Regions from separate parts of the Homo sapiens genome. Here all the other regions are linked to region 1. The links come from fine-mapping of genetic effects on gene expression. A gene starts in region 1. Each other region holds a variant in brackets. All regions are shown on one strand. Distances are from middle to middle.

Region 1 (8,108 bases):
ACAACCACATTCTAAGTTAAAGTGCAGCTAACCTATGCAGGTCTTTCAACAGCGTGATCCTAACAGATTCTGTGCAACCCTTAGCTAAAAATCCCAGTCCAAACCTAGAAAACATGCTAAGTGAAAGAAGCCAGACACAAAAAAACACATATTGAATGATTCCATTTATATAAAATGTCCAGAATAGGCAAATCCATAGAAACAGAAAGTACATTAGTGGTTGCCAGGGGCTGAGAGAAAGGGAAATAGGAGTAACTGCTTAATGGGCATAGGACCTCTTTTTGGGGTGATGAAAATACAGACAGTCTCTGACTTATGATGGTTCAGTTTGCCTTAGGATGTTTCAACTTTACAATGGTGCAAAAGTGATACACATTCAGTAGAAACCATACTTCAAGTACCCATACAATCATTCTGTTTTTCACTTTCAGTATAGTATTCAATGAATTCCATGAGCAATTCAACACTTTTTTAAATATAATATAGACTTTGTGTTAGACGATTTTGCTCAACTGTAGGCTAGTGTAAGTGTTCTGTGCACATTTAAGGCAGGCTAGGCTAAACTATGATGTTCAGTAGATTTGGTGTAATAAATGCACTTTTAACTTATTTATTGAGTTTTTTTTGGAATGTAATCCCATTGTAAATTGAGGAGCATCTGTATTCTGTAATTAAGATAGTGGTGATGGTTGCACAGTATTGTGAATATATTAAACAATCACTGAACTGCGCACTTTAAAATTGTTACAATGGTGAATTTTATGTCATGTGGATTTTATCTCAAGTGAATTAAAAAACAAAAAACTGTCCGGCCTATGTCAATGAAGATAAGAGACAGACCAACCAGATGAGTGAGTGGAGACTGCTTAAAGAGTAGCCCCATTGTGAGCTCTTCCTGGGGAGGACATGCAGTACCTCCTGCAGAATACTGAATACTCCCATTCTATCCCCCCATTTCCAGCCAAGTAAAGGGAGCGTCCAGAGAAACATGCCATAAGCTGACCCATGCCTCCTGGAGTTCAGAAAGCACAGGAGCTGGAGTCTGAGTTTTCCCAGAAAATGTATCTCCATATAATGAAAGACACAGGATGGGGTGAGAGATCTGGTTCTATAAAAAATCTTAGGCAATTTACAAAAACCAACTGGAGCAGGCCAAGAGAAGAACAGGATGCTGTAGGAGCTGAGTGCACTTCCATAGTTGTTGGGCAAAGGTATGTTTTTCTTGTGGGTTCAAGCTAAGTTACACTGTAAAAATCCTATTAAGAGTGCTGCCCGCCAGAGTGATGAAACTCCACAGGAAGCTCCTGCATGCAGCAATCAGTGACCCCAGTGAGCTCCATCTCCAAAGAACACCCAGTGTGCCTCACGCCGAAAAAAGAGGCAACAAGATATCTGCCAGTGTATAAATTCCACCTGACTACAGGACGCGTGGTAGAGTCAAAGGAGATAAAGAATGTGAAAGCCCTTCTTAGGACATAAAGTGCTATTGAAGTGTTAATTATTAGTAAAAATGACTTAGAATCATCAAACATGTGCTATTAATTTCTTGTCTCATATCTCTAATTACTTAAATCTTTGATTACAACCTGAGAAATTGTGGAAATTACAGGGCTAGAACTCCTGTGATTTCATCACCTCAAATTACTGCCTCAGGCAGATAGTATTTCCAAACCCAGCTAGACACTCACATGACCACACCCCCTTCTCAGCATACTAGATTCAGAATTATGTCAAGTGTCAAGCCACATTCTACTATCCCTTGGAGTCATTACTGAATGGTCAAAAATTCCAATGTATTATGTCATGTGGAAGAGGCCAGAGGAATATCTATCGCATCCTATTTTAAACTCCTGAGAAGGCAACTCAACCATCTGTCTTGGCAACCCATTCCAGGTTGGAACCACCCTGGCAGAAACGTCTCTCTTCTGTTTAATCTAAATCCTTCAAATAGAACCTTGAGATAATTGCATCCCATTTCATTTTCAAATAATTTGGAACACAGTTGTTTACCATCTGGGTTATAGGATTATATAATGTCACAGGGCTGTGGTGAGCAATAAATGAAATAATGCATGTAAAACGCATAGCTCAGTGTCTGGCATATAATAAAGGCTCAGTACATATTTATTATCACCATCATTACATGTGTTAGTACTCTGTCCGTCACAAGTGACATGCAACTCAAAATAATTTAAGCTAAAAAAGGGGGTGGGGTGGAAAATATAATTAAAAAGGAAGTAAAAGTATGCAGTGGCCTTCAGGTACTACCAGATCCAGGACTCAAATAACATTTACAGGACTCCTCTTTCTCTTTCTTCTCCTTTTTTTTAAGACAAGCTTTCAAAGCATAAAAGGCAGGACAGCAACCAGCAGATTCAGTTGGGGTAAACCGTTATCTTAACCACTTTGAATAGGTTCCCTGTTCATCAGTTCATTTATCAAAAATTTATTGAATGTGTTAAGCAGGGTTCTGAGAGCTGAGAATACAGCAATACACAAAACAGATAAAACTGCTATCCTCTTGGAATTTACCTTCTAGTGGAAAGAGGGAATCTGTTAGAAGGAGAAGGGATGCTAGAAAGATAAAAATGTTATCCTCCACAAAATAAGGTCACGTCTTATACCTTAAGATCAACTCTTATCTTTCTTTCCTCCCAGCTAGTAAACTCAATCCTTTTACAACGTTCTTCCCTTTCACAAACATGTGAAATCCCCCAAATCAGGTCTTCAAATGGATAAATAGCCTTGTCTATGGATTTTGAGTGCATTTAGTTTACTTTTGCTGTGTAATCTCTGCATAATGTTTCTACAATATGCCTGTAGTTATAATAATATAACCTTCCTGTTTCCATTTTTTTGAATCACTTATTCTTTTTAGACTATTTTTGCATTAAATACAGGTCTTTCTTCTGCCTTCATGGTTTCCTTAAAATACGATGTTAATTAGTAAAATCCTGCAAAAACCTGGTCATTTATTAGTCATTTAAAAAATATTCCTCTGAGCGATTTTAATTCTATTCCTCTGTATTAACTATTCTAACTCTATAAAATTGAAGTCCTGGAGACCAAGCTTTTGAGAATCCCAGGAAGTGTGGCCTAATACTAGAAAATCTCAACTTCTGCCTCTCCCCTTTAAGTACACAGTAAGAAATGCTTGCATGAAGCATTTTAGGCTGTGTTCTTATGATAAAATTCAACTTTCATGAAATAAATTAATCTGAATCAAGTTGTCCTCATCTGAAAATGCCTAGATTTATTAGTGCTAGCCCGGCTTTATTCCACAAACAATTCTATTTAAATTAGGTGTTGGTCTAACAAATCTGCCTGACCACAGCAATGACTCACGGACCATGTAGGAAACAACTTTCACTAAATTCAAGATTGCTCAAGTGAAAAGGTGCGCGGGGGAGGGGAGGAAGAGTTGGTTGTCCTCATCATTTTTATTTTTAAGTAATATTACAAGTTATCTATCCTGCCCCAACTGTTTCCTCAATTTGGTTGCTTTTCATTCCACTGTGGTTGGCATCTTTTGTCAAGGCAGTAATTTATTTCTTTTAATCCGGATATAATGGCCAAATGGGCGATCTGACTCACTCAAATCCCATCGTTAAAACTTATCTTGGAATTAAACAAAAATGGATTTTTAATCGTAGAGCTCATCAGCCTCATAGTCTCCACCTCATTTCTGAATGGCCTTGTTCGGCTTGCACCTTCTGTGCTTGCTGAACCAAAGCGCGCTGGTCGGCCGCGGCATCTCCGGAAGGGATGAAGAGCCTCCGCGCACACGCCCCTTACTTCCCTGTCCCGCACGCGCCACGAGCACGCTTGCAAAAGACGGGGAGGTGGCGGGGACAGAGACAGAGGAAATGAGAGAGAGAGAACGAAAGAGAAAGGAGAGAGAGGGAGAGAGAGAGGGAGAGAGAAGAGGGGAAGGAGAAGAGAGAAAAAAGAAAAAAAGGTCTGCTCTGGGATTATTATTATTATTTGGGTTAATACTCTTATCTTTGCATTCCAGCCGGAAGGTCGGCTCCAAGCCTTCTTTCCTGCCCTCCTCCTTCTTGAATTGGACACCATCCCTGTTGCCGCCTCCTGAGTCAGGAAAGGGATAGAACTTTCCCAGGGAGGTGAGGGGTGTCCCCGTGGCGATTTCCCGGTTACTTCCTCCCAGCAGATATCCCTGTGGAGAGGAAACGTTCCCGACTTCCCTCCCCGCGACCTCCTCCCTAGAAACGAGCGGAGACGTCAGGCTGCTTCTGGGTTTATTTTGTAAACCCAGACAGTCAACTGCACTTGGCGCAGGCAAAGCCTCCTTGGCCCTTGCCCCAAAGCAAAGCTCTAAGAGGTCCGGGGATTCCTTGGCCTGGGTGGGGAGAGAGACGTGACCTGTGCGGCCGCCGCGAAGTGGGTCTCCAAGGGTGAGACCCCTCCCTCGGTGGCTGGGCGTGTCCCCTTTAGCCTTCCTGGACCCCATTACCGCCCGGCTTGGAGCTGGACGAAGGGACGTAATTGGTAGGCGAGTGGGTTGGGCATCTTGACTCAAGGACCAGAGTCTGGGCCTCTGGTGTGGACCCCTGCCCCCTCCCCGCTCTGCGCGGCCGTTCTAGAGGTCCGGGTGGGAGCTGGAGGAGGAAAGCGGGAGGAGGCGGCGAGGCCGCGGGGCGGTATGAGGGGGCGCCGGCCGCCTCTCGGATTGGCTGCGCCGCCGCCCCCTCCGCATCGCGCGCCCCCCACCACGCGCCCAGCCTGCTCCCTCCCGCAGGCTCCGAGCTGCTGCCCGCAGGAGGCAGGACGCGCAGGGGTGGGACCGGCGCCCCAGCCCGTCTCCCGGCCCCGGGCGCGCGGGAACCCCGGGTCCTGCAGCCTCCCGAGTGCGGAGAGGCGGGGCCGCCCGCTGCCGCCCGGCTGCCTGCGCCCCCTCCCGCGGCCCCGGCTCTGGGAGCGGGGCGCCCCGCGCGCGGGCACACGGCGGCCAGAGCGCCGAGGCGGTACCTTCAGCCTGCAATGAGAGGAACCCGGGAGAGCCCCCGGGAGCCAGCGAAGAGCTTGGCTGCTGCGTCCAGGGCTGCTGCTGCCGCCGCGGCTGCTTGAAACTCCTCAAAGTTGAGAGCCGGCTAGAGGGTGCCGCCCGCCGGGAGCCGGAGGGAAAGGAAGTCGGAAGGTGCAAGAGTGACAGACACGGACAGACGGACGCGCAGACCTTCGGAAGGCACTGCGTAGGCAGCCTCCCCGGAGCCCACGAGGCTCCCCAGCACCGTGAGTTTTTTCCTGGATGGGTGGTTGCTAAGTATTTCCGTTTAATTGTTTGTAGCGTACGTTTGCGTATAGTTGTGTCTGTTGGAGGGAGTTTAAAACAACAACAACAACAACAACAACGCAGGATGCACCTTAGGAAAAAATTGAGTTTCTGATGGTGGGTGAGACGGTGGGTTGTATGGAGAGAATGTGACTGTACATTTTTATAAGCAGGACTAACCCAGGAAAGAGGAAAAAATACATTTAACAGTGAAGAGGCAACACAGAGCTCCCTATTGTGAAATAAAACCCATTTCAAAAGTTATTGGAAAGAAAGTAAGGTATGGCTCTTATGGGTTAACTAGTGGTAGTCAGTTTCTGCTTTTTACTCCCTCTGAATTATTAATTGTTTGCCAGGTTCACTGGTGGGAGGCTGAGCCGGTGGAAAAGACACCGGGAAGAGACTCAGAGGCGACCATAATGTCGTTACGTGTACACACTCTGCCCACCCTGCTTGGAGCCGTCGTCAGACCGGGCTGCAGGGAGCTGCTGTGTTTGCTGATGATCACAGTGACTGTGGGCCCTGGTGCCTCTGGGGTGTGCCCCACCGCTTGCATCTGTGCCACTGACATCGTCAGCTGCACCAACAAAAACCTGTCCAAGGTGCCTGGGAACCTTTTCAGACTGATTAAGAGACTGGACCTGAGTTATAACAGAATTGGGCTTCTGGATTCTGAGTGGATTCCAGTATCGTTTGCAAAGCTGAACACCCTAATTCTTCGTCATAACAACATCACCAGCATTTCCACGGGCAGTTTTTCCACAACTCCAAATTTGAAGTGTCTTGACTTATCGTCCAATAAGCTGAAGACGGTGAAAAATGCTGTATTCCAAGAGTTGAAGGTTCTGGAAGTGCTTCTGCTTTACAACAATCACATATCCTATCTCGATCCTTCAGCGTTTGGAGGGCTCTCCCAGTTGCAGAAACTCTACTTAAGTGGAAATTTTCTCACACAGTTTCCGATGGATTTGTATGTTGGAAGGTTCAAGCTGGCAGAACTGATGTTTTTAGATGTTTCTTATAACCGAATTCCTTCCATGCCAATGCACCACATAAATTTAGTGCCAGGAAAACAGCTGAGAGGCATCTACCTTCATGGAAACCCATTTGTCTGTGACTGTTCCCTGTACTCCTTGCTGGTCTTTTGGTATCGTAGGCACTTTAGCTCAGTGATGGATTTTAAGAACGATTACACCTGTCGCCTGTGGTCTGACTCCAGGCACTCGCGTCAGGTACTTCTGCTCCAGGATAGCTTTATGAATTGCTCTGACAGCATCATCAATGGTTCCTTTCGTGCGCTTGGCTTTATTCATGAGGCTCAGGTCGGGGAAAGACTGATGGTCCACTGTGACAGCAAGACAGGTAATGCAAATACGGATTTCATCTGGGTGGGTCCAGATAACAGACTGCTAGAGCCGGATAAAGAGATGGAAAACTTTTACGTGTTTCACAATGGAAGTCTGGTTATAGAAAGCCCTCGTTTTGAGGATGCTGGAGTGTATTCTTGTATCGCAATGAATAAGCAACGCCTGTTAAATGAAACTGTGGACGTCACAATAAATGTGAGCAATTTCACTGTAAGCAGATCCCATGCTCATGAGGCATTTAACACAGCTTTTACCACTCTTGCTGCTTGCGTGGCCAGTATCGTTTTGGTACTTTTGTACCTCTATCTGACTCCATGCCCCTGCAAGTGTAAAACCAAGAGACAGAAAAATATGCTACACCAAAGCAATGCCCATTCATCGATTCTCAGTCCTGGCCCCGCTAGTGATGCCTCCGCTGATGAACGGAAGGCAGGTGCAGGTAAAAGAGTGGTGTTTTTGGAACCCCTGAAGGATACTGCAGCAGGGCAGAACGGGAAAGTCAGGCTCTTTCCCAGCGAGGCAGTGATAGCTGAGGGCATCCTAAAGTCCACGAGGGGGAAATCTGACTCAGATTCAGTCAATTCAGTGTTTTCTGACACACCTTTTGTGGCGTCCACTTAATTTGTGCCTATATTTGTATGATGTCATAATTTAATCTGTTCATATTTAACTTTGTGTGTGGTCTGCAAAATAAACAGCAGGACAGAAATTGTGTTGTTTTGTTCTTTGAAATACAACCAAATTCTCTTAAAATGATTGGTAGGAAATGAGGTAAAGTACTTCAGTTCCTCAATGTGCCATAGAAAGATGGGGTTGTTTTCCAAAGTTTAAGTTCTAGATCACAATATCTTAGCTTTTAGCACTATTGGTAATTTCAGAGTAGGCCCAAAGGTGATATGACTCCCATTGTCCCTTTATTTAGGATATTGAAAGAAAAAATAAACTTTATGTATTAGTGTCCTTTAAAAATAGACTTTGCTAACTTACTAGTACCAGAGTTATTTTAAAGAAAAACACTAGTGTCCAATTTCATTTTTAAAAGATGTAGAAAGAAGAATCAAGCATCAATTAATTATAAAGCCTAAAGCAAAGTTAGATTTGGGGGTTATTCAGCCAAAATTACCGTTTTAGACCAGAATGAATAGACTACACTGATAAAATGTACTGGATAATGCCACATCCTATATGGTGTTATAGAAATAGTGCAAGGAAAGTACATTTGTTTGCCTGTCTTTTCATTTTGTACATTCTTCCCATTCTGTATTCTTGTACAAAAGATCTCATTGAAAATTTAAAGTCATCATAATTTGTTGCCATAAATATGTAAGTGTCAATACCAAAATGTCTGAGTAACTTCTTAAATCCCTGTTCTAGCAAACTAATATTGGTTCATGTGCTTGTGTATATGTAAATCTTAAATTATGTGAACTATTAAATAGACCCTACTG
Region 2 (8,108 bases), 240 kb before region 1:
CAGTAGGGACGAGGTTTCACCATGCTGGCCAGACTGGTCTCAAACTCCTGACCTCAGGTGATCCACTCATCTCAGCCAAAGTGCTGGGATTACAGGTGTGAGCCACTGTGCCTGGACCAGGAGAAACTCTTGAACCCAGGAGGCGGAGGTTGCAGTGAGCTGAGATCGCACCCCTGCACTCCAGCCTGGGCAACAGAGCGAGACTCCATCTCAAAATAATAATAATAATAAATAAATAAATGAAAAACATGTCCATCAAAAAGCCAAATCATTTTGAAATTTCAAAACCCCAGATATAAAGAAAAGATCCCGAAAGCTTCTAGAGAGAAAAAGAAAACCAATTTATGTACAAAGCGCTGGTTCCAAGAATGGCAACATTTGTAGTCCTAACTCTCACAGAGAGTTTTCCTTCTATTTAAGCCTATATTGTTGTTAAACCCCTTTTGCTGAGGGCTCGTCTTCTGAGTTTTATTTCTGAATTCTCCCCTTCACTACCCATTTGCTCTCCTCATTAAAAAATACTCTTACAGAGTTCTATCACATACTCAAAACAGTCTTTTCTCCCCTTACCCTATTTCCAGATCTGACGCTGTGACAGACTAAGTGTATACTGGCCTGGATCTTTCTCCCTTTGCTGGGAGAGCCATTTCTTTAGTCATCATCTGTACTGAGCAGTGGTCAACTGTGAATTTCCTCAGCACATGCCAGCTGAGCTCAGTTACCAGGGTCTCTGCAGAGACTGGCTCCACCTGCCTTTCTGCACCAAGTTGTTGACAACTTCTCTCTTACTCCTTCTTGGAGCCATCTCAGTCCTCTTTGGTGGTCAGAAGGAGATGAAGCTGTCAGTCAGGCAGCAGCTGCCACAACCCACATAATACCAATTCAACCTACAAACACAATCATGAGATTTCTCTTTGCTGGTAACCAGACAATAGGCCCATCCACACTGCAATTCTGTCCAGTTGAGAAGGTGAGGCAACAAAAATCTGCTTAGATTGACAGCAAACACATAAGTATTGTGCCTGAGAAGTTTTTAAGCAGGAAGGCTTGAATTTACATGTTTGTACAAAACCAAAACCCCTTCCTTACTTTGTCTCTCTCTACTCTCTCCATCTTCCCTTTTATTTCCTTAATGATGGTCTTCTAGTTCTACCTACCCTAGGTTCATGTTAGGCTCATAGTACAGGTTCTCTCCTTTATCATTTCATTATTCTATGGAGTTATAGCTGTTCTTGTGTCCTTATGGTCTGCAAATGCCAGAAATTGTTCAAATGGTCACCTCTTGTATCATTTAGCTTCTGCTGCATAACAAATTACCCCAAAACTTAGTGGCTTAATATAACAACCTTTTTTTTTTTTTTATCTCATGATTCTTCAGTCCATTAAGTTAGGCTGGGTTCATCCAAGCAGTTCTGGCCAGGTTGGCTGGGGTTTGGCTGGTTGAGGGGTCTCAACTGAGATCCCTCATCTGTACTTTATGTGGTTTCTCACCTTCCAGCAGGCAATCCTGGGCGTGGTCACATGGTGACGGCATTATTCAAAGAGTGTGCTCTTTGAACACAATATAGGAAGCTGCAAGGCCTCTTGGGGCCTACGCTTGGAACTCATTCAATGCCAGTTCTGTGGTATTCTATTGACCAAAGCATGTGGCAAGGCCATCCCAGATTCAAGGTGACTCTACCCTTTTTTTTTTTTTTTTTTTGGTGAGAAGAAGTCTTGCTCTGTGGCCCAGGCTGGAGTGCAGTGGCAAATCTCGGCTCACTGCAACCTCCACCTCCCGGGTTCCAGCGATTCTCCTGCCTCAGCCTCCTGAGTAGCTGGGACTACAGGTGCATGCCACCTCACCTAACTAATTTTTGTATTTTTTAGTAGAGACAGGGTTTCTCCATGTTGGCCAGGTTGGTCTCGAACTCCTGACCTCAGGTGATCCACCCAGCTGGACTTCCCAAAGTGCTGGTATTACAGGTGTGAGCCACAGCACCCGGCCAACTCTACCTCTTAATGGGAGAAACTACAGAATATTATGGCCATTTTTACAATGTACTGTATTTCAGTAGAGAAAAACTGGGAGTAGGGAAGGAAAAAGATGGACAACTTTTACTTTTCACTTACGGAATTACGTTTTGTTTAAATTTTAAAAATTATGGATGCATATACACTACTTCTACAATAACAATAATGATAACACATTAAAATATGACTCCAAATATTTCTTGTATTATCTTAGTTACACGAGGATAATAATCTAATCCACTGATATTTTGAAGGACCCATGATTTTGAATCAAAACACCTAATTCAGGCTTTGTCTTTGAACCACCTCTAATTATAAGGCTAAATAATGGTAAATTTAATATGAAATCCTCCAGCATGGAGCTTGACACATAGCAAATGTTGGGTAAATCTGAATCTGAATGAGAAGATAGGGGCAAAAAAGATGTATGAATAATATAAAAATAACTTTAAAATCTGTTCTATTTATTTTTTGTTTTGTTTTCTGAGACAAGGTCTTGCTCTGTTACCCAGGCTGGAGTGCAGTGGTGCAATCATAGCTCACTGCAACTCCTGGGCTCAAGGGATCCTCCCACCTCAGCCTCCCAAGTAGCTGGGACCACAGGCACACACCACCAAGCCAGGCTAGTTGTCTTTATTTTTATTTTTAATAGAGACGAGGTCTCCCTGTGATGCCCAGGCTGGTCTTGAACTCCTGAACTTGAGTGATCCTCCTGTATCAGCCTCCCAAAGTGCTGGGATTACAGGCATGAGTCACTGTGCCCAGCCAAAATCTGTTCTATTAATTTAGTGTTTATAAAAACAACTTGCCAGCTTTTATTATGGCAACTTGAACTTTAATGGACAAGAAAAGAGATTTGATTTAACTTCATATACTTGCAGTTTGGACTGTTGGAGAAAATATTAACAGCATGTCCATTGCTGTAATGCAAGCTGGGAATTATAACCTAAGGCAGCATGAAGAGTGTTCTTAAATTCTAGTCCTGCAAGTCACCCATCTAATTAAGAAACCATATATCTTATGATACATGCCAGGAATTCTCCTTAGCTATATCAAGTGGAGCCTTGGGGAGACATCCACAGGAGCTATTTTTCAAAAAACCTTCTTTCTGGCTGGGTGCGGTGGCTCACGCCTGTAATCCCAGCACTTCGGGAGGCCAAGGCGGGCAGGTCACCTGAGGACAGGAGTTCAAGACCAGCCTGGCCAACGTGGTGAAACCCCGTCTGTACTAAAAATACAAAAATTAGCCAGGCATGGTGGCACCTGCCAATAATCCCAGCCACTTGGGAGGCTGAGGCAGGAGAATCAATTGAACCCGGGAGGAGGAGGTGGCAGTGAGGCGAGATCACGCCATTGCACTCCAGCCTGGGCAAAAGAGCGAAACTCCGTCTCAAAACCAAAACCAAAACCAAAACAAACAAACAACAAAACTTCCTTTTTTTAGCAGCTGCAGCACATATTAGCAAGTGGCAGAAAAGTGACCTCTTAATTTTGTTCAATAGACCCCATATTCAGTTTGTTCTTGTGCTTTTACCAGTACTTACTATTTCTCCAAATTAAAAATGGATAAATAGAAGCAATAAAAATATGTTAGAGAAATTCTTGCAGATCTTTTTTGGCTGATTTTCAATCCAGAATATGTTTTCCTAAAGTCTCACAAAGTATTTACAAGAACAGGCCTGCTATTTATTTAATGACCATTCGATGCCATCCTGACCTTTCCCAGGAAGGTCAAAGAGTAGCCTGTTATTTGAATGCCTAATTTAACTGGACAAAG[G/A]AAATTGCTTTCATAATTTCTACTTTGGCCTTCCTGATTGAACCAAATGTCAACTTTCCACACAATGTTCCCCAACAAACATTCTTATTCCTAATGCAACCAGATTAGATCAATCTGCATCTGTCTCCATTGTACCCTGGGATTGCATAAACTCTGGATACATATTTATTTTGTGGATTCATTTCCATGTTAATTGGAACGCAGTTTCCTGGAATTTCTTTTCTGAGTATGATAATCTTCTTACAGTCAGCATGATGGAAACAGCTGTGTGCTGTTTACTTTAAGGAGGATGGTGTTCCTTGCTCAGATGATCATTGGATATCCACTTTCTAGATCAAATATTGTATCTCCATTCTTTCTTATAGAATTATTAGAACATGTTAATTTATGGAGGACTTTCAAACTCAATTTTATTAGGCTACTGGTTTGGGGAGAGCATAGTACACAACAAAAATTATTGAAAAGCCATAATATTTAATTAAATCTCTGCTTTCTAAGTAGATTTTTAAAATCAACCTTATTTATTTATTTATTTATTTATTTTTGAAACAGTGTCTTGCTCTGTCACCCAGGCTGGAGTGCAGTGGCACAATCTCGGCTCACTGCAACCTCTGCCTCCTGGGTTCAAGCGATTCTCCTGCCTCAGCCTCCCAAGTAGCTGGGATTATAGGCTCGTGCCACCACGTCCTGCTATTTTTTGTATTTTTAGTAGAGACGGGGGTTCAGCATGTTGGCCAGGCTGGAAATCAACTATTTTTTAATTACAAAAGTTATATATGTAAAGTGCAGAAAATCTGGAAGTTTGACAATCCCACTATTGTTAACATTTTGATGGCTTTCTTTCATAAACACATAATAGATTTTTGTAAGATATTTTTATTCTGAGCAGATAAATACAGTATCAGTCCAAACACTTTTTCACCAGCCATCCGTCTAATCTAACTAAGGAGTTATTAGATGATAAAATAAAGCAGATTATTCAATCCAACATCAAACATGTTCTGAAGATTTACTATGTGCTCCACACTTTCTCCTCTCTGGGATGGGTGAGAAGAGCACAAAAATAAATAAGACACATCCTTGCTTTGTCAACATGATTAGCAACCAAGATAGAGTTGCTTTAGCCTCCACAGGTATATTGCCATTCCAAACACAGTCAGGCTTAATAAATAAAAATAGAATACATATTAGGTAGACAACTCAGTCTCTACCATGTCACCTGAGTTTAGCCATGCATGTCTCTTTAGGGCAACCATTTTATATATAAGAGATGTCTCAGCTTCCCTCCCTGGAAACTCTTCTCTTCCCTCTCTAGGATCAGACACATGCTCTCATCAGTACAGTTAAGGATCAGATGAGAGATGAATTGGGCTTTGTCAATTCCCATTCCCATTGTTGCTTACTATCTTATCAACAAAACTAAAACAAGCTTAAGGAAAAATGTTTCATCTATGTTAATTTTCTCTACTCCTTTTTGTCATAAAAATAAAATAAATTATTTTTCATATTGTCCCTTTCCTGTGTCCTCTTAATCTTTGTTTTTTGCACAAAATTGCAGTATGGTTTACTTTACTTTTGGGGTCCAATCCCAGGCTGAGGTCCTGACCCTTGAAATTCTTGAAAGCAGAGACACTCAACTACTGGCTGTTGTCAGATGCTGTGAGGACCTGAGCAGTTCTGGGTGAAAACCCAGATAGGGAAGTTGTTTCTCCAGTTGATGAACACACTGTAATTCTTATTTGGGACAGAAAAAAAGGTGTAGGAAGATGTTATGACTATGTAACAAATAGAAGCCTGGGCAACACAGGGAGACCACTTCTCTACAAAAATTTTTTAAAAACTCAACTGGGCACGGTGGCTCATGCCTGTAGTCCCAGCTACTCAGGAGGTTGAGTTGGGAGGATTACTTGAGCCTGGGAGGTTGAGGCTGCAGTGATCATGTCACTGTGTCACTGCACTCCAGTCTGGGTGACACAGCAAGAAGACCCTGTCCCCCAAAACAAAACAAAACAAAAACAAACAAACAAACAAAAAACTCAAATAGACCTAGAATGTATTTAAAAGGAAAAGTAGCACCAGTTGGAACTCTGATGGTCAAAAACAAAAACAAAACCCTCATCTGCCTAGGTATACACCCAAAAGAATGAAAACAGAGATTTTAATAGATACTTGAACATCAGTGTTGATAGCAGCATTACTCACCGTAGGCAAAAGATGGGAAACAACCTCACTGCTCTTTGACAGATGAATGGATAAACAAAATGTCATGTAAATATTCATCCTTAAAAATGATGAATTTTTAAAATGATGAATAGTCAGACATGTGCTATAACATGGATGAACCTTGAAAACATCATGCTAAGTGAAATAAGCCAGGCAAGAAGGGACAAATATATGGTTCCACTTATATGGGGTACCTAGAATAGACAAGTTCATAGAGATAGAAAGTTTGATAGAGGTTACCGGGGACTGAGGGACAGGGTGAATGGAAAGTTACTGTATAATGAGCACGGAGTTTGGAATGATGGAAGAGTCCCGGAAATGGATAGTGGTAATGGTTGCATACATTTTGAATGTACTTAATGTCACTGAATTGTGCACTTAAAAGTGGTTACAATGGTTTTATATTATGAATGTTCTCCATCTTAGTACCTATCAACTCTTCCTGCTTGCTACAGGCTTTCCCTTTCTACCCTTAGGCAGGCATGGCTCTCCCTGAGTCAACAATATGCAGCCCCTAGGGTGGCCACAAGCCCAGGATCCCTCCCAGCCTGAAGGAACTGTACTCATATTGCCCTGGGTTGGCAGCCTGGGTTCTCTGCTGAGTTACCCCAAAGTGGTTTCAGGACAGCACAATTATTTATTAAGTAGCTCTGGTGCTGACCTTAAGAAAAAACAGAACAACGAAAGTATTAAGCGTAAAACCTTTCTCTTTTAATGAATGAGTAAATATTCATGTTATTATTCCTAGAAATAAGAACTCTGTCCGCCTGGGTAACATAGTGAGACACCATCTCTACAAAAAAATTAAAAAGCTAGCCAGGCGTGGTGGCATGCGCCTGTAGTCCCAGCTACTTGGGAGGCCTAAGGCAGGAGGATTGCTTGAGCCTGGGAGGTTGAGGCTGCAGTGAGTCATGGTCATGCCACTGCCCTCCAGCCTGGGTGATGCAGCAAGACCTTGTCTCAAAAAAGAAAAAAAAAAAGGAAGAAAGAAAAGAAAAGAAAAAAGAACTCTGAAGACCTTGGGAAAGAATGGTACTTAGTAGTTAGAGTTCTGTATATAAGGAAAATATTTCCAAATGCTCTATGAGGTCTGGAAAGTTATTTCACTAAGTACATTCAAAGTTGCAACAGGAGATCATTTTTTGCTGGATGGTTTTAATAATAATATACAGTGCCCCATGTATAAAGAGCTGTAGCTAATGGCAGCCATAAGGTATGTAAGCACAAAAGGGACATGTGTTTATGCTGAAGGTTTTGATTTCAAAAATAAGGCCATGTTTTAAGTTATTAGAGAGCACGATTCTTATACTATCAAGGTATTACAATGCTTTGGAGATGTCCATTAATTTATGGGCTTTTGGATTCCTGTAAGTGCTTACTTCATAATTCCTGGGTCTATATTTGCCTTGAATATCCATCAATATTCCACAAGTACTTGCTGCAACCCTATCCTCCCTACAAGCTCCCCCAGTACAAACATACAAAATTGATAAGACTCAAGGTCCTCTCTTGCCACAATCAGATCATTAACCTGCGCTGCCAACCAGAGTTTCATGGTTCTTTATTTATTTATTCATTTATAATATCTAGGATTATAGTCTAAGAAGCAGGATTCTCCAAGGAAAATGGTCACACACACACACACACACACACTCTTACATTATCACTGGCTCAGCCGGCTGGGATTAGACTTTAACTCAGGCCCTTTATTAAAATGAAGTTGCAAAAGGCCAATTTCACTTCCTCTTTCCAAGAGGTGTGAGATTCTTGCCACATCCCCAGGCCCCTACATGTTCTGTAGGTAGAAAGAAGCAAAATAATCTCCAATATGTGCAAAGTTCAGAAATCAGGGCTGCCAGAAGACAGACTGGCTATGATGGACTGTCATTTGGTATTACTAAAAAAAAAATCATGGGTCATTTACCAAAATCTCACTTTATATTCAGCTATTTTAGTATCACATTGACAAAGTACAGGGTTAGAAATACAAACAAATTTAGAAATGAGGAGGTAAAGCTAGGGGAAAACTAAAAGGCTAGAGGGTGGTTCATATAAAACCTAATTTAAAAATCTATGAGATTTTAAAATACGTGGG
Region 3 (8,108 bases), 140 kb before region 1:
GATCATGGCTCACTGCAGCCTTTATCTCCCAGGTTTAAGAGATCCTTCTGCCTCAGCCTGCCAAGTAGTTGGGACCACAAGTGTGCATCCCATGCCCAGCTAATTTTTTAAAATTTTTTGTGGAGACAGGCTCTTGCTTTGTGGCCCAGTCTGGTCTTGAACTCCTGGTTTCAAGTAAACCTCCTGCCTTGGCCTCCCAAAGTGCTGGGATTACAGCCATAAGCCACCATGCCCAGCCACTTCCCACTTCTCTAGACACTCATTTATCTTCCCATCAAACTGTGGCTGAATTTCTCAAATAATTGTCTTGTGACCTTTGAACAGTCTCCCTAAATGTAAATATTGCATTGACCAACAATGGGAATGATGGCAGCACATTCTCACCAGGCAATTTCAGAGAGCTGCTGTATAATTTTTCTTGAAGCACTGGCTGGGAATACATAATTGGGTGGAAATATACTTTGCTTCTGAAATGTGTGGATAAAGTCATTTTTATTTTTGATGACTGGTTTTGTTTTAATTGTGAAGAAATCCTTAGGTTGATCTGTATCCTGGCAATCATTTAAAAATTTTCATGTTGGCGGGGCGTGGTGGCTCACCACCTGTAATCCCAGCACTCTGGGAAGCTTAGGCAGGAGGATCACTTGGCCCAGGAATTCAAGACCAACCTGGACAACATGGTGATATCCCTTTCTTAAAAAAAAAAAAAAAAAAAAAAAGAATTTTGATGTCTAACAAATATTGGAAACAATATATATATTTTGAAGATATAGCTTAGGGAGGAGGGGAATGTTGCAATATATATTTTGGGAAGCTGAGCACAGTGATCAATGTCACATTTGTTTTCAGTTTTATGGTTAAATATTTTACTTTCCCCCAATTTTTCTTAGTCCTTAAAAAGTGTGTCTTTGATTAAAACATTATTTTTTAATTGGTATAGTTTTAATTTTATATGTTTTCTTACATAAAACTTCATCATCTAGGTTTTAAAGTTTCAAATTCATTTAATATGTTAGAATAATTCCAACATTTTGCATTCTGTAAACTTTTTATGTCTTGGGATATGATCCTTTCTTCTTGGGATCTTCTGAAAGCCCGCAGGGAACCATAGGGTTTGTATAAGCCCAGAGGGCCTTTTCTCATGTCTTTATGTTTGTCTCTGTGACTCACCTTTGAATGTTCCCCAACCCTTTCCTGTTACTGAAATTCTGCTCCTTCATTAAGACTCACGTTAAAAGACAATTTTGTCAGAGAGCCTTCCCTACTCTCCTAGATAGAAAAATCTCTCCTTCCTCTGAGGGATGCCTCTACTTAACCTTTGGTTCTGTTTTGTTCTATAATTAACTGCCCATGTGCCATTCTATCCCACTCTATGCTAGTTCTGGATGGCAGAAGTGGGTCTCACCCATCCTTGTACCCCTCAGGGCCCAGTGCCTGTGCCTAGTAATCATCGGCACTCACTGAGCACTCACTTTGTGCCAGGCCTATTCCATTCTCACAACCCGGTGAAGGAGGAAGTATTATTATCTCCATTTTATAGATAAGTAAACTGAGGCATGGAGAGGTTATATAAATTGCCTAAGGTTGGCTGGGCATAGTGGCTCACGCCTGTAATCCCAGCACTTTGGGAGGCCGAGGTGGGTGGATCACCTGAGGTCAGGAGTTTGAGACCAGCCTGATCAACATGGTGAAACCCAGTCTCTACTAAAAATACAAAAATTAGCCTGGTGTCATGGCACACACCTGTAATCCCAGCTATTCAGGAGGCCGAGGCAAGAGAATTGCTTGAACCCGGGAGGCAGAGGTTGCAGTGAGCCAAGATCGCGCCACTGCACTCCAGCTTGGACAATAGAATGAGACTCTGTCTCAAAAAATAAATTAAAAATAAATAAATAAATTGCCTAAGGTTGCCCAGCTAGTAAATGGCAGAACTATTCTTTTGACAATGTATCTTCTTCTTCTTCTTCTTTTTTTTTTTTTTTTTTTTTTGAGGCAGTGTCTCCCTTGGTCACCTGGGAGTACAGGGGCATGATCACGGCTCACTGCAGCTTCAACCTCCCAGGCTCAATCAATCCTCCCTCCTCAGCCTCCTAGGTAGTTGGGACTTTAGGCTCATGCCACCACACCCATTATTGACAGTGAATCTTCTGAATAATTAGATAAGCTTAAGGTTTCCTTTTGTTTCTTTAGGAAGAAGTATGGCTCCAAAGCCTGAGCTTTTAATCTCAGCTATAAATACTTGTTTAAATTAAGAAGAAAAAAAATCATATTATCTAGAAAGAAATATTTGCATGTAGCTTTCCTTGTTATTCTCTGTTGAAAAACAAAACAATATTTTGTGCACAGCTTTAAATTTTTCCATGAGAAAACAAAGCAGGTGTGAAATAACTTAGTTCGATTTTCATCACTCTGTTAGCTAGTCTTCTTAAAAGCCGATGGAAAACCCAGTGCTGCACTAAAGCTATATTTGTGTTTCAAATGTTTAGGCTTATGCTGACTACTCTAGATTCCAACCAGTGGCTGAATTAAAAGTTCCCATGGATGAAAAACAAGGGCGATTGGAGAGCTAATAATGACGAGTGCTTTCAACTGATGAACAGGTTGGATTGTGACAATTCTGCTCCAGGACTAGCTACAAAAGTCCATTTACTCAGTAACAGGAATCTAGGGTTGAGTCAGCAGGCCTGGATTTCTTCCACCTCTAATGCTTACTTTATCTTTGTGCTACTTAGTTTTTTACTTCTTAAATGGGGGAAATAGCACCTATGCTCCTCTGAAGGGATTACCCAAAAGAGTTTTAAAAATGGACATTATTTTATTATTGTTGCTATCATTATTGTTACCATTTTTGTAGTATTTAAATTCTATGTGTAATAGTGTTTCTATGGAAAAAGAAACTTTTTTATTTTTGTTTTTTGAGATAGAGTCTCACTCTGTTGCCCAGGCTGGAGTGCAGTGGTGCAATCTTGGCTCGCTACATCCCCTGTCTCATGGGCTAAAGTGATTCTCCTGCCTCAGTCTCCGGAATAGCTGGGATCACAGGCATTTGCCACCATGCCCAGATAATTGTTCTATTTTTAGTAGAGGCGGAGTTTCACCGTGTTGGCCAGGCTGGTCTCGAACTCCTGACCTCAGGTGATCCACCCACCTAGGCCTCCCAAAGTGCTGGGATTACAGGCCTGAGTCACCTTTTTCCACAGGCGGCCGATCTATGGAAAACATTTTTTGAATTTAAAAATGAGAGCAAGTCTCAGCCAGGTAGAGTGGCTCACACCTGAAATCCCAACACTTTGGGAGGCCAAGGAGGGACGATTGCTTGAGACCAGGAGTTCAAGCCCA[C/G]CCTGGGCAATAAAGCTACACCTCTGTCTCTAAAAAAAAAAAAAAAAAAGAAAAAAAATTAAAAATGATCAGGATGTGGTGGCGCATGTCTGTAGTCCCAGCTACTCAGGAGGAGGCTGAGGTGGAAGGATACCTTGCACCCAGGAGTTTGTGGCTGCAGTGAGTCGTGATGGCACCACTGCGCTCCAGCCTGGATGACAGAGCAAGACACTGTCTCTGCCTTGGCTTTTACTCACACTATGTTGTAGAGGATTCTGGAAACTTGAGTTCCCACTGCTTTGCCTGTTGGCAGTGCAACTGAGGACTTGCCAGTTTCAAGCTCTACGGCTTGGAGCGGAAGAAAGGACAAGCAAGGTCCAGGGACTAAGGAAGCTGAGGAACAAGAATCTTGTGCTGGTGAAATGAATGTCATACTGCCTATGCACACCGACTAACTTCTCACATTAGGCCTTTCCCCAGGCCATGGTTTTCCCCACTTCAGTGCCAACAACGGACCTAGGGGTTTTTCTCCCTGCTGCCGTGTCCAGCCGAGCTCTCGCTTCTCTCTTCTCCTCCAGCTCCAAAAATAAGTCAACAGCTCTGCACTGCCTACCTTAGAGTTAATTGTGGAAATCAAATGAAATGCTGTGTAAACTCTACAGATGTTCGCTGCTATTGTTATTCTGAGCCACCTTAGCATATCTGGAAAGTGGGCTTAGTGGTTAAGGGAGATTTCCAGTTAAATGAAGCATTTAACTTATTATTTAGCAACATTAATTATTTAGTGGCATTATTTAGCATACCCTCCAAAAAGTATTTACATGTTTTACCAGTTTATCTCTTTATTCTTCTTAAGAACTCTAAGAAGGGCGCGGTAGCTCATGCCTGTAATCCCAACACTTTGGGAGGCCAAGACGGTCGGATCACCTGAGGTCTGGAGTTCAAGATCAGCCTGGCCAACATGGTGAAACCCTGTCTCTAGTAAAAATATAAAAATTAGCTGGGAGTGGTGTCGCGTGCCTGTAATCCCAGCTACTTGGGAGGCTGAGGCACAAGAATTGCTTGAACTTGGGAGGCGGAGGTTGCGGTGAGCAGAGATAGCACCACTGCACTCCAGCCTGAGCAGCAGAGTGAGACTCCATCACAAAAAAACAAAAACAAAAACAACCTAAGAAATTATTTTCTTTCTTTCTTTCCTTTTCTTTTCTCTCTTTCTCTTTCTTCTTTCTTTCTTTCTTTCTTTCTTTCTTTCTTTCTTTCTTTCTTTCTCTTTCTTTCTTTTTCTTTCTTTCTTTCTTTCTTTTTTTTTCTTCTTTCTCTGTCTCTCTCTCTCTCTCTGTTTCTTTCTTGTCTCACTCTGTTGCCCAAGTTGGAATTCAGTGGCGAAATCATGGCTCACTGCAGCAACTCTGCAGGCTCAATCAATCCTCCCACTTCAGCCTCCCTAGTAGCTGGGACTACAGGCCTGTGCCACCATGCCTGGCTAATTTTTATAGTTTTTTTTAGAGACAGGGTTTCATCATGTTGTCCAGGCTGGTCTTGAACTTAGACTCAAATAATCCACCTGCCTCAGCCTTCCAAAGTGCTTGGATTACGGGTGTGGGCCACCGCACCTGGACTACATATTCTAATTTTCTCCATTTTATACTTTTAAAAATTAAGGCTAAAAGATTGAGTAATCTGCCCAAGGTCATCCATTTTATAAGAAGTAGTGCTGGAAGTAAAACCTGATGCCAAGCCTTTGTGGTCAACCACAACATACAAGATTGCAGACAACAGATGCCTCACGTCCCTTCTCCAGTTCACAACTAAATTGGCTGTTTTCTTTCACTGTCCATTTTAATAAATTTACAAGTTTATCAATCACTAATATTTTTGTTATTGCCAAGCACCAGTTGTCTCTTTAGTGTTACATGGGGTGGGCTGAAGGAGGCTAGGGTGCTGATTCCTGTCTACAGTAAGTGCCCAAAAAATGATGGTCTCAAGAAAGGCTGGTCAGAAATGCCAACTTAAAGTTTCAGATAAAATGGAAAAACTGAAAAGTACTTACTCATTAAAGTAACTGGTGATTTTTAAGCATCTCTCTCAGTTGATTCTAGATCTCGTCCCTAGATAGCTTTCTTCCTCTCCTGTAGATCATTGTGACCAGACGGGAGATCTCAGAGCTTGGGCTATAGGGGAAATAGGTTAGCCTCTGGGTGCTGCTGTGCTTGCAAGCCAGCGTCTGGGGAGAAGATGACATTTCCGGTGGCATCTGGGGCAAACGACACAAGTCAGCATTTAGTTTCTTGCTTTAGGAAGCGGAAGACTAATGACCGAAGCTTCAAGACTTTGACATGTGTGAAAACATGAAATGGTAAGTCAATACAAAGACAGCATCTTCCTGGAATTTGGTTTTGAGCTTGTTTTCATTTCACCTTTCTCAGTAATCTGGGTGTAGCTTATTTTGACTCTTCCTTTGATTAAACAATTCAGACCCTTGGCTCTTATTGTTCTTGCTGGTGTGGTATGTTCACGGCTGAAAAGATGGTCAGAAGGGGAAAGGAGGAAGTGAGAAGAAAGAAACAGGGAAATGGTAAGAAGAACTCTACTTTTCTAAATAATATTTAATAGTAGTAATCTTGTGTTTCTGTGCAAGGTGTTACAGTTTACAAACCGCTTTTATTTTTATTTATTTATTTTTTTTGAGACGGAGTTTTGGTCTTGTTGCCCAGGCTGGAGTGCAGTGGCATGGTCTCGGCTCATTGCAACCTCTGCCTCCCAGGTTCAAGCGATTCTCCTGCTTCAGGCTCCGAGTAGCTGTGACTACATGCACCCACCACCACACCCGGCTGATTTTGTATTTTTAGTAGAGATGGTGTTTCACCATGTTGGCCAGTCTGGTCTCGAACTCCTTACCTCAGGTGATCCACCCGCCTTGGCCTCCCAAAGTGCTGGGATTATAGGGGTGAGCCACCATGGCAGGCCACAAACCGCTTTTAAATCCTTTCACTTCATCTCTCCACTGACGTCTTGATGGAAAAATGGCTCAGTCCACACTACAGGAAACCACAGGCCTGAGCCCCAGCCTCAGCTAGATCCAGTATGTGGCAGAGCAAGATAAGAACTTTCTGCTTCCTCCCTTAGTGTTCCACTTGAAACCAGCAGGTAACTCAAGGGGACAGCGTGCTTAAAAGGGAGATGGTTCGTCTGGCGCTGTGGCTCATGCCTGTAATCCCAGCACTTTGGGAGGCCGAGGCGGGTGGATCACCTGAGGTCAGGAGTTCGAGACCAGCCTGGCCAACATGGTGCAACTCCGTCTCTACTGAAAATACAAAAATTAGCTGGGCGTGGTGGTGGGCCCCTGTAATCCCAGCTACTCGGGGGGCTGAGGCAGGAGAATCGCTTGAACCCAGGAGGCGGAGGTTGCAGTGAGCCAAAATCGTCCCATTGCACTCCAGTCAGGGTGACAAGAGCAAGACTCCATCTTTAAAAAAAAAAAAAGGGTGGGGGAGATGGTCTTCTGATTGATTAGATAAGTGTAGGCATTTGTTTTCTTTTGTCTGGAATAATATGATTTCGGGGAGAGGAATATCACTTTCCCTACAAATACCAAGATGAAAAAGAAAAGGAAATAATGAATCAGAAAAAAAAGAGAGAGAGAAAATGCATGACTACAGAAGGTCCCAGTGCATGACTACAGAAGATCAGAATATACCACCCCCAGGTTCCCGTAATCCCAGGTCCTTGGGAGGCTGAGGCAGGAGAATCGCTTCAACCCAGGAGGCGTAGGTTGCAGCAAGCCGAGATTGCGCCACTGCACCTCAGCCTGGGCAACAGCGAGACTCCATCTCAAAAATAAAAAATATGCCACCCCAAAATATAGTTATTTGGCATATTTCGAGCTGATTATTCTGAGCAACTGCAGACACAAGAGTATCTCTGAAAAGCTGTCCTTTTGTAAAATAAATTTATATTTATAAAAGAAATCTACATTAGTCAAAGTATCTGTATCAGGAAGAGTCCTGCTCTCAGACAACTTTTATTACCTGGGGGATTCCAGTGTGTGTGCATATAATTAAAAATGTTTTTTCCTTTTCTTTTCTTTTTTTTTGAATTGAGATTTGGTCTCAATATGTTGCCCAGGCTGGTCTTGAACTCGTGGGCTCAAGTGATCCTCCCACCTCAGCTTCCCAAAGTGCTGGGATCACAGGCATGAGCCACCGAGCCTGGCCAAAAATGTTTTTTTCTCCTGTTAATCTGTTTTATGTCAATTTAATTTGTATCCCAGCCAAAGAACCTAGAAGTAGGGAGGAAGCCATTTTCCCTCCCTTACAGCACAAAATAACTAACCAACAAGAGTAAGAGGTTTCACAACAGTCCTGAATTACATGCTCTGAAGACTTAGCTTTTTTTAATAGTATGCTATTTATGTAAACTGGATTATAATGTGACATAATTGTCTTTCCTTGAAAAATATCATTTTACTTTACATCACTGTCTATTCAGTGTGTGGCTTAAAATTAATTCCATACCTTATGCATTGTTTTCATCCTCTATGGCCATCAATAAAGTTATCTTGCAGTTCCCCATGAGTTTTAGTACAGTCATTACCGGGAAATTTAATAGAATCAAGGCAGAACCCAACTGATAGCTTTAGTATTTTATAATCCAGAGTAGTCTATTACATAACTTTGAAAAATCTGCCATTATTTAGTTCTAGCAATTCTATAAATGAATTGCAAATCTTTCTAGTTCTGTAGATTTCAGCTAGTCTGTGCACTGTGAGAATAAAAGGACAATCTCTGTAA
Region 4 (8,108 bases), 320 kb before region 1:
TAAAACATTGTAGGTACTAAAAAATCATTTAGAGAAGGAATGAATGAATGTACTTGTTCATTTAGACAGATAAGCCTGAGAGAGGCAGGTGTGGTATATGAGAGGGTGACGAAGTAGAAACTAATAAAATATTTGCTAATATTTTTCTAGTTGTACCTGGGGCCAAAGAGACTGTATGATTTTCTGCACACTCCTCACCCACCCCCATATTACATACAGGTGCAATGTGATTACAGTGAACTTGAAGTCCACCCTGGGGTGTGAGGATATATGTGTATATGTATACACTATATATCACCTCAAACTGTGATGAAATGTGGGGAGGGAAGACATTTGAGGCTGGACAGATCTGGGTCCAAATTCCTCTTCTGGCTTTTGCCTGACATATGATTTTGAGCAAGTTATTTTAAAACCTCAACCCTGACAGCATGACTCTCTCATGTGTGTTTTCTATGAGGCAGTTACTCTGCTCTGTGCTTCTCTTCCCAATGTGAGAAGAAAATGGCCTGCCCTGGTGACTGGGAAGGGTGATATGGCAATTATAGGGATGGGGGGCAGCTGTAAGATGGTGCACTTGTGTTTGGCACCAGCTAAATTGCCCAGCTCTGTCCTACCTGCTGCACCTTGAGCCACTGCACATCCACAAAAGCATCCTAGAGAGGGCACTGCAGAGCCACAGAACCTGTGGGTTTCACTTCCTGAAAAAACAAAACCAGGAAACGATAACAAATACCTTGAGTGCTCACTATGTGCCAGGGATTGTTCTAACCATTACTCATATTGACCAACTCAATTATTTATCCTAAGGACCTACTTTACAGGTGAGGAAACTAGTTACATACAGGGCACATGGGTAATGAGTAGCAGTGCCAGGAGTCGAACCTAAGTAGTTTCATTCCAGAGCCTGAGCTCTTGACACTCCCTGTGGCATGACAGGTGGTTCAAAATGCTGGTAAAATGAGTCTGTATCCATGGCTGTGGTCTCAGTGGTGAAGTAGTGTCCCTTGCACTCCCACAGGGCCCTTTCTTGGACCAGGCTTCTAGCCAATCATACCTGTGTCCTATGGCTTAATGTCGCATGGCCTAGTGGCTGCAGAATGGCCTCAGTCTGTGACACATTGAGTTTATATTCTTCTTTCAGATAAGAGAAAAATCTCATGGCCTCTAGTGACTGGTATGTGTCCCAGTTCTTTTCCCTCCTCCTCTGCATGATGGCAGGGGCACGGTCTTCCTCAGAACACCTGTGCTGACATCATATACCAGCATTTTTTCAGTTGCTGTCTTATTTTATCTCCTATGTAAGCTGCATTCCTGCTGCACACACACAGTGTCTAGCATATAGTGGGTGTGCAATGCACACTAAATGAATAGGAAAAAGGATAATTTCAGATAGTGATGAAGAACCATTATAGAAATCGAACTCCTGCCTTCTGCAAGTCCAGGATCTGTGCCAAGTGAAAGAGCTGACGTTACGCCATTGGCACAAACAGAGAACCATATTAAAGTGCAATGGCAAATTTAAACATTAAAGCATGAGAAGTATTTTTGTTACTGCACCTTGCCAAATGGAACTGAAGCAGATTTTGATATAAAAATTGACAGGAAGCAAAAGTGGAATGGATAAAAATAGAAAAGAAATTACCAAGCCTTGAAAGGAAGTACACAAGATGAAAATGGAATTAAATCCACCTTGACTGGAGGAGATTATATTTTAAAAAATGAATAAATTGACAGCAAATTAACATGTAGTACATCTACAATCTGCCTTTAAGGAATAACAAAAGATATTTTTATTATCTCAATGCAGAAATTTTGGTTGATTTTTTTTTTCCATTACTTCCTGAAATGAGAGGTTTAGTTTTATATAGAACTAAGTGTTATGCTTTGCCCAACTGCTTGGGTGCACACGGAGGAGTCTGTATTGTGTTTCTCTCTGGATGCAAGTATTTTCTTGGATGGAATTTTCTGTGAACTTGAGATTGTGTGATTGCCTAGAGATTGGGGCATGTCTCTCTCTCTCTCTCTCTCTCTCTCTGTGTGTGTGTGTGTGTGTGTGTGTGTGTGTGTGTGTGTGTGTGTTGGGGGGTGGGTATTTGAGGGCATGCAAGATGAAACATTCCAGAGTTGAAATCCTTAGGAGAAGTCCAATATGGCAAAAGCGGAGCCCAACTAGAAAACTGAAGCCCTGAAGACTCTTTCCTGAAGCTTTGTGTCACAGTTACATGACCCTGGGTAAATCACATTTTCTCTGGGTCTCAGTTTCACTATTTATAAAATAGAGATAATAATTTCTACTTTTCCTACCCGTTAATGAGGATCTAATTTGATAATGGACCTGAAAGTACTTTGAAGACATTTGCTATGATCCTAATGCAAGGAATTATTGTTATAATTTTTTTTCTAAGCAATGAGGTTATTGTTGTGTAACTCTAAGATTGCGAGGGGATTTCTTTGAAAAGCAGAGGAGAAGCAGTATATGATAATTCCTTATGTTTATATAGTTGTTCGTCATTTTTAAGATCCACAATCTATATTCACTACCAGATTTGTCCAATAATCCTGCAAGATAGGCAGCTCTTTGGGCAGATGGAGAAAGACTGAAGGAATTGCACAGGGTGTCCCAGCTCTTGCATGGAGGAGCCAGCACTAGAACCCACACAATCCACAGTGGCCCAAAAAGTCACCATGCTGGAGTTGCCTGCATTCTTCACAGGTGTGTGTGTGTGTGTGTGTGTAAATAACATCTGATTAATAAGAACACACAAGAAATTGAAGTCTTTGTCTCAAGCTTTCCTCTCCAAATCTTGCTCTTATGGACATAATATGCCATTTGGTTTGAGCCTTGGAGGCAGTTGTTAATAAATATGTGCTGTACAGATCCCGGTGCTGGCTGCTACAGAGACACTGGTGAAGAGGGCATTGATTTGGTCTTTGGGAAACTTCTGGTCTACAGGATAAGACAGACATGTAAACAGGGAAGGGCATCGTGTGATGAATATTATGCCTGAGGTGAGATGACTCTGTGAGGCATCCAAGAGAGGCCCTGCTACTACTCTTTGTGGGCTCGAGGAGGCCTCCAGAAAGAAGAGGTGTCTAAGGTGAGACATGAGGATGAGCAGGAGTTAAGAGGGTCAAGGAGGAAAATGTATCAGGCAGAGGCAGTGGCAGTTTCGAAAGCCTGGAAGGGAAAAAAGCAGAATATTTGGGAGACAAAGTGTTTCCAAAAGGCTGAGGCACAGAGTGTCTACATACTGTGATGGAAATATTGGGGTGATGGGCC[A/G]GGCGCGGTGGCTCACACCTGTAATCCCAGCACTTTGGGAGGCCGAGAAGGGCGGATCACGAGGTCAGGAGATCGAGACCATCCTGGCTAACACGGGGAATCCCCGTCTCTACTAAAAATACCAAAAAAAAAATTAGCCGGGCATGGTGGCGGGCGCCTGTAGTCCCAGCTACTCAGGAGGCTGAGGCAGGAGAATGGCGTGAACCCGGGATGCGGAGCTGAGCTGAGATCGCGCCACTGCACTCCAGCCTGGGGGACAGAGCGAGACTCCGCCTCAAAAAAAAAAAAAAAGAAAAAAGAAAATGGGGTGATGAAAATGTTCTCACACTGGCGTGTGGTGATATGGGCACAACTCTACATTTACTTAAAAACAGCACAACTCTACATTTACCTAAAAAAATCATAGAATGTGGCCGGGTGTGGTGGCTCAAGCCTGTAATCCCAGCACGTTGGGAGGCCGAGGCGTGCGGATCACAAGGTCAGGAAATCGAGACCATCCTGGCTAACACGCTGAAACCCAGTCTCTACTAAAAATCCAAAAAAAAAAAAAAAAAAAAAAAAATATATATATATATATATATATATATATATATATATATATATATATATATATATATATAAAATTAGCCGGGCGTGGTGGTGGGTACCTGTAGTCCCAGCTACTCGGGAGGCTGAGGCAGGAGAACGGCATGAACCTGGGAGGCGGAGCTTGCAGTGAGCCGAGATGGCGCCACTGCACTCCAGCCTGGGCGACAGGGCGAGACTCCGTCTAAAAAAAAAAAAAAATCATAGAATGTGAATTACCTCAATAAAGGTAATCTATGAAGGAGCGGGTAATAGGAGCAGAGTAGCCGCTGGTGAGAAATGAGACCAATGACACAAGCTGGGGTCTTGGGGAACCTCGATCGGTTTTATCAGAAGAGTGGCATGGTCAGATTTATCCTAAAGAAGGAGTACTCTGGAAGTGCATGGAGAAAGAAGAGAAGAAATTCAGTTAGCAGATAAGGAGGCCAGTGGTCCATGCAAAAAAGAATGATGGGTCTGGACTTGGGTGATGGCAGTGGAATGGGGAGGTGAAGGAGAGTGAGAAGCAAAGGATGGCACCAGGACCTTCCATCCATGCATGTGGAACAGTTGCATATTTGAAAACACCTCAACAATTGATTGACTTTTTTCATCAAACATGATAATTACATGAAGCTACATTTCCCTGGAGGCTGCTTTATTTTTCTCCCATCTAAACCAGGGAGCAGAGACACATGGATGGGGCTGTGACTGCCTTTGTTTCCTCTCTTTGCCCCTTGAGGAGATGAATTTACTCCTATGTTCCTTTTTCCACCTTTCGGCCACTGTATTTCTCCTCTCTTACAGTCCTCCAGTTCTTAAGCTGTAGTAACTTAAGTCAAAGCATTATTGATTAATTATGTTCCCACTTTAAATATGATTTGTGCTAAAAAAAAAAACTGAAAAGGAATGAAAACACATGTCCATGCAAAGACTTGTCCATGAATGTTCATGGAGCAGTATTATTCAGAACTAGAAACTACCCAAATGTCCATCGACAAGTGAATGGATAAATAAAATATGGTATGTTCATTCAATAAAAAGGAAAAACTCCCAATACATGCTATGACATAGACACATCTTCAAAACAGTATGTTAAGTGAAAGACATCAGATGTAAAATACCACACATTGCATGATTCTATGTACATGAAATGTCCAGAAAAGCGAAGTCTATAAAGACAGAAAGTAAGTCAGTGGTTGCCTGGGGTTGGAGGTGAGAATGGCACTAGACTACAAATGGACATGAGGGGTGTATTGGGGTGATGAAATTGTTTGAACACTGGCATGTGGTGATATATACATAGCTCTAAATTTACTAAAAATAAAGTCATGGAATGGAAATTACTTTAATAAAGCTGTGAAAGAAGGAAAGAAAGAAAAGAAAGAAGGAAAGAAAAAGAAAGAAAAAAAGAAAGAAAGAAAGAGAAAGAAAGGAAGGAAGGAAGAAAGGGGAGAGAGAAGAAAAGAGAGAGAGAGAAGAATTCTGAAGGAAAGGATGATAGTATAGACGTGCATTTGAAAGGGCCAGTTATTGCTGGGCAGTGTCAGAGAGGAGGGGCTGGAGCCTACAATATCACTTTCTCATAGGCATGAAGAAGCCAGGGGTCTAGGCTAGCTTCAAAGCACTTTGAGGAACAAGGTCAGTTTCTCAGGGTATGTCAAGTTCTGAGCCAGACTTGAAGTTGGAGGGCCATGGGATAGATGGCTTGTCCTATCGACTGTGGTCAGTGGATGTCTCTGAAATAGCAGGCAGGCAAGCTAGGGGTCCAACTGTGTATCACAAGGTGCCCCACTCTGGACTGGACTCAGGAGGATTGTCTAGTCCTCAGGGATGGATACTGTCAAAAACAAGGCACAGCTCTGGCCTCAGGTTTCCTTTAAAGAGAAGACCAGACTCTGAGCTGAAGAAGAGTTACCAAGACAGAAACCCAGCTATAAGAATTGGAACCTCAGGGAGCACTGAACTCAGAGAGGTCATCAGAACAGGCTTCTAGAATCAGGGCATCCATGAATCCTCATCAGCCCTGGGCCTAGGTAGAGGGGTGTGTCTGGGCATGGAGATGGCAGGTGGCAATGATTAGAATCAGGATGCAAAGGTTGAGTCTTATATTAGTAATCACACTGGGCCCAGACTGAGGCTGGTGCACTTCATGCTCTGCCTGGGTTCTGGACAAAATTAGGAGTTCTAAATGCCCACATTTCTCCCACACCTGCCATGTGTAATTCAAAATATAAACAACATGAAGCTCTATAATAACTGTATGAAAGACCAACAAAAATCTTATTTGTTCTCATGATGACCTCATCAGAGCTTTAAAAAATATATATCGGGAAAGTTCTAACTTCCCCTTAACCCACGTTCTTTATCTCCTTCCCTGTTATGTGTTATCACCTTCTTACATACCATATAAGGTGTTTTAAATTTTGTTTATTGTCTGTCTTCCCTTATTAAAATCTAAGGGTATAAATTCTCTGCTGTGTCTCTAGCAACTAGAACCATGCCTGACAGTAATGCTCCAAATGAATCAAGCATAAATTCTTTCCCTCCTTTATTTCTCTGCTCTGTAGATGTTCTAAGTGTCACTAGGCTGCTGGTTGGGTGATCTAGCACAGCCTCAGCCTCAGGTCTCAGTGGGTTCCAGGGACAGGTGGTAGGTCCCACATTTGCCAGGAATGGAGATCTGATGGGTACTGATTGGGGATTTGAGGGATGCTGTGTGGGCAAGGACCAAGACTGAGTCTGACAAAACTCATGGTGGGATTTCCATATCTGAGACAGGATGGTAGTGGACACTTTAAATTGGGCCTTTTCTAATTGTACCCTGAAGTCAACTGCTTCTGTCCTTTTCAAGTTGTACCCTGAAGTCAACTGCTTAGTGTGCCTGCTAGCATCAGGGCCAGCAAACCTGGTTTCATTTTTTTTTATTAATTTCAACTTTTATTTTAGATTCAAGGGGGAAATGTGCAGATTTGTTACATGGGTATATTGCACAATGCTAAGGTTTGGGGTATGATTGATCCTGTCACACAGGTACTGAGCATAGTACCAATAGTTATTGAATCCTTGCCCCACTCCCTTCCTCCTCACTCTAGTAGTCCCCAGTATCTATTGCTGTCATATTTACGTCCCTGAGTACCCAATGCTTATTTAGCTCACACTTGTGGGAATTTGTGATATTTGTTGTTTTTATTCCTGTGTTAATTTGCTTAGGATAATGGCCTCCAGCTATGTCTATGTTGCTGCAAAGGACATTCAGTCTTTTTATGGCTGTATAGTATACCATGGTGTATGTGTACCACATTTTTATTATCCAGTACACCATTGCTGGGCACCTAGGTTGATTCCATGTCTTTACTATTGTGAATAATGCTGTGATGAACATATGAATGCATGTGTCTTTTTGGTAGAATGATTTATTTTTCTTTGGGGATATACCCAATAATGGGATTGCTAGGTCAAATGGTAATTCACTTTTAAGTTCTTTGAAAGACCACCAAACTGCTTTCCACCGTGGCTGAATTAATTTACATTCCTACCAACAGAGTGTGAGCATTCCCTTATTTTCTCAGCCTCGCTGACATTTGTTGTTTTTGACTTTTTACTAACAGCCACTCTGACTGGTGTGAGATGGTATCGTATTATGGCTTTAATTCGCATTTATCTAATGATTAGTGATGTTGTATCAGTCCATTTTCATACTGCTATAAACAACTGCCTAAGACTGGGTAATTTATAAAGGAAAGAGGTTTAATTGACTCACAGTTCAGCATGGCTGGGGATGCCCCAGGAAACTTACAATCATGATGGAAGGCAAAGGGGAAGCAAGGCATCTTCTTCAAAAGGCAGTAGAAAGGAGAAGTGCTGAGTGAAGGGGGAGGAGCCCTTTATAAAGCCATCAGATTTCATGAGAACTCACTGTCACGAGAACAGCATGGGGGAAACCACCCCCATGATTCAATTATCTCCACGTGTTCTCTCCCTTGACGTGTGGGGATTATAGGGATTACAATTCAAGATGAGATTTGGGTAGGGACACAAAGCCCAACCATATCAGATGTGGACCATTTTTTCATGCTTGTTGGCCACTTGTATGTCTTCCTTTGAGAAGTGTCTGTTCATGTCTTTCTGAATGGGGTTATTTGGTTTTTGTTTGTTCAATTGTTTAAGTTCCTTATAGATTCTGGATATTAGACCTTTGTCAAATGCATAGTTTGCAAATATTTTCTCCCATCCTGTAGGTTGTCTGTTTACTCTGTTGATA

Evidence for each region. PIP is the estimated chance that this variant, and not a neighbour inherited with it, causes the effect.
Region 2: its variant is fine-mapped to the expression of AMIGO2 in lung (TOPMed, PIP above 0.99).
Region 3: its variant is fine-mapped to the expression of AMIGO2 in blood mononuclear cells (TOPMed, PIP above 0.99). The same link has a PIP of 0.9 or more in whole blood.
Region 4: its variant is fine-mapped to the expression of AMIGO2 in monocytes after R848 (Quach 2016, PIP 0.95).

What each region holds. Positions count from the first base shown.
Region 1 is chr12:47,076,607-47,084,714 of GRCh38, reverse strand. AMIGO2 (adhesion molecule with Ig like domain 2) reads left to right here and starts at 4,756. Exons shown (of 3, transcript NM_001370299.1): 1 at 4,756-5,253; 2 at 5,467-5,573; 3 at 5,650-8,108. The coding sequence starts at 5,713. The coding sequence ends at 7,281. PCED1B (PC-esterase domain containing 1B) reads right to left here and starts at 5,094. Exons shown (of 4, transcript NM_138371.3): 1 at 4,990-5,094.
Region 2 is chr12:47,312,612-47,320,719 of GRCh38, reverse strand. No RefSeq gene overlaps it. Among named protein-coding and RNA genes, the nearest start is that of LINC02416, 37 kb to the left of the region's middle. RefSeq lists an enhancer at 7,852-7,901. The variant G/A (reference allele first, on the strand shown) is at 3,791.
Region 3 is chr12:47,213,950-47,222,057 of GRCh38, reverse strand. It overlaps PCED1B (PC-esterase domain containing 1B), which reads right to left. Exons shown (of 4, transcript NM_138371.3): 3 at 5,369-5,836. It overlaps PCED1B-AS1 (PCED1B antisense RNA 1), which reads left to right and starts at 5,615. Exons shown (of 3, transcript NR_026544.1): 1 at 5,615-5,674; 2 at 5,794-5,893. RefSeq lists enhancers at 1-620, 916-1,416. The variant C/G (reference allele first, on the strand shown) is at 3,340.
Region 4 is chr12:47,401,021-47,409,128 of GRCh38, reverse strand. No RefSeq gene overlaps it. Among named protein-coding and RNA genes, the nearest start is that of LINC02156, 9.9 kb to the left of the region's middle. The variant A/G (reference allele first, on the strand shown) is at 3,281.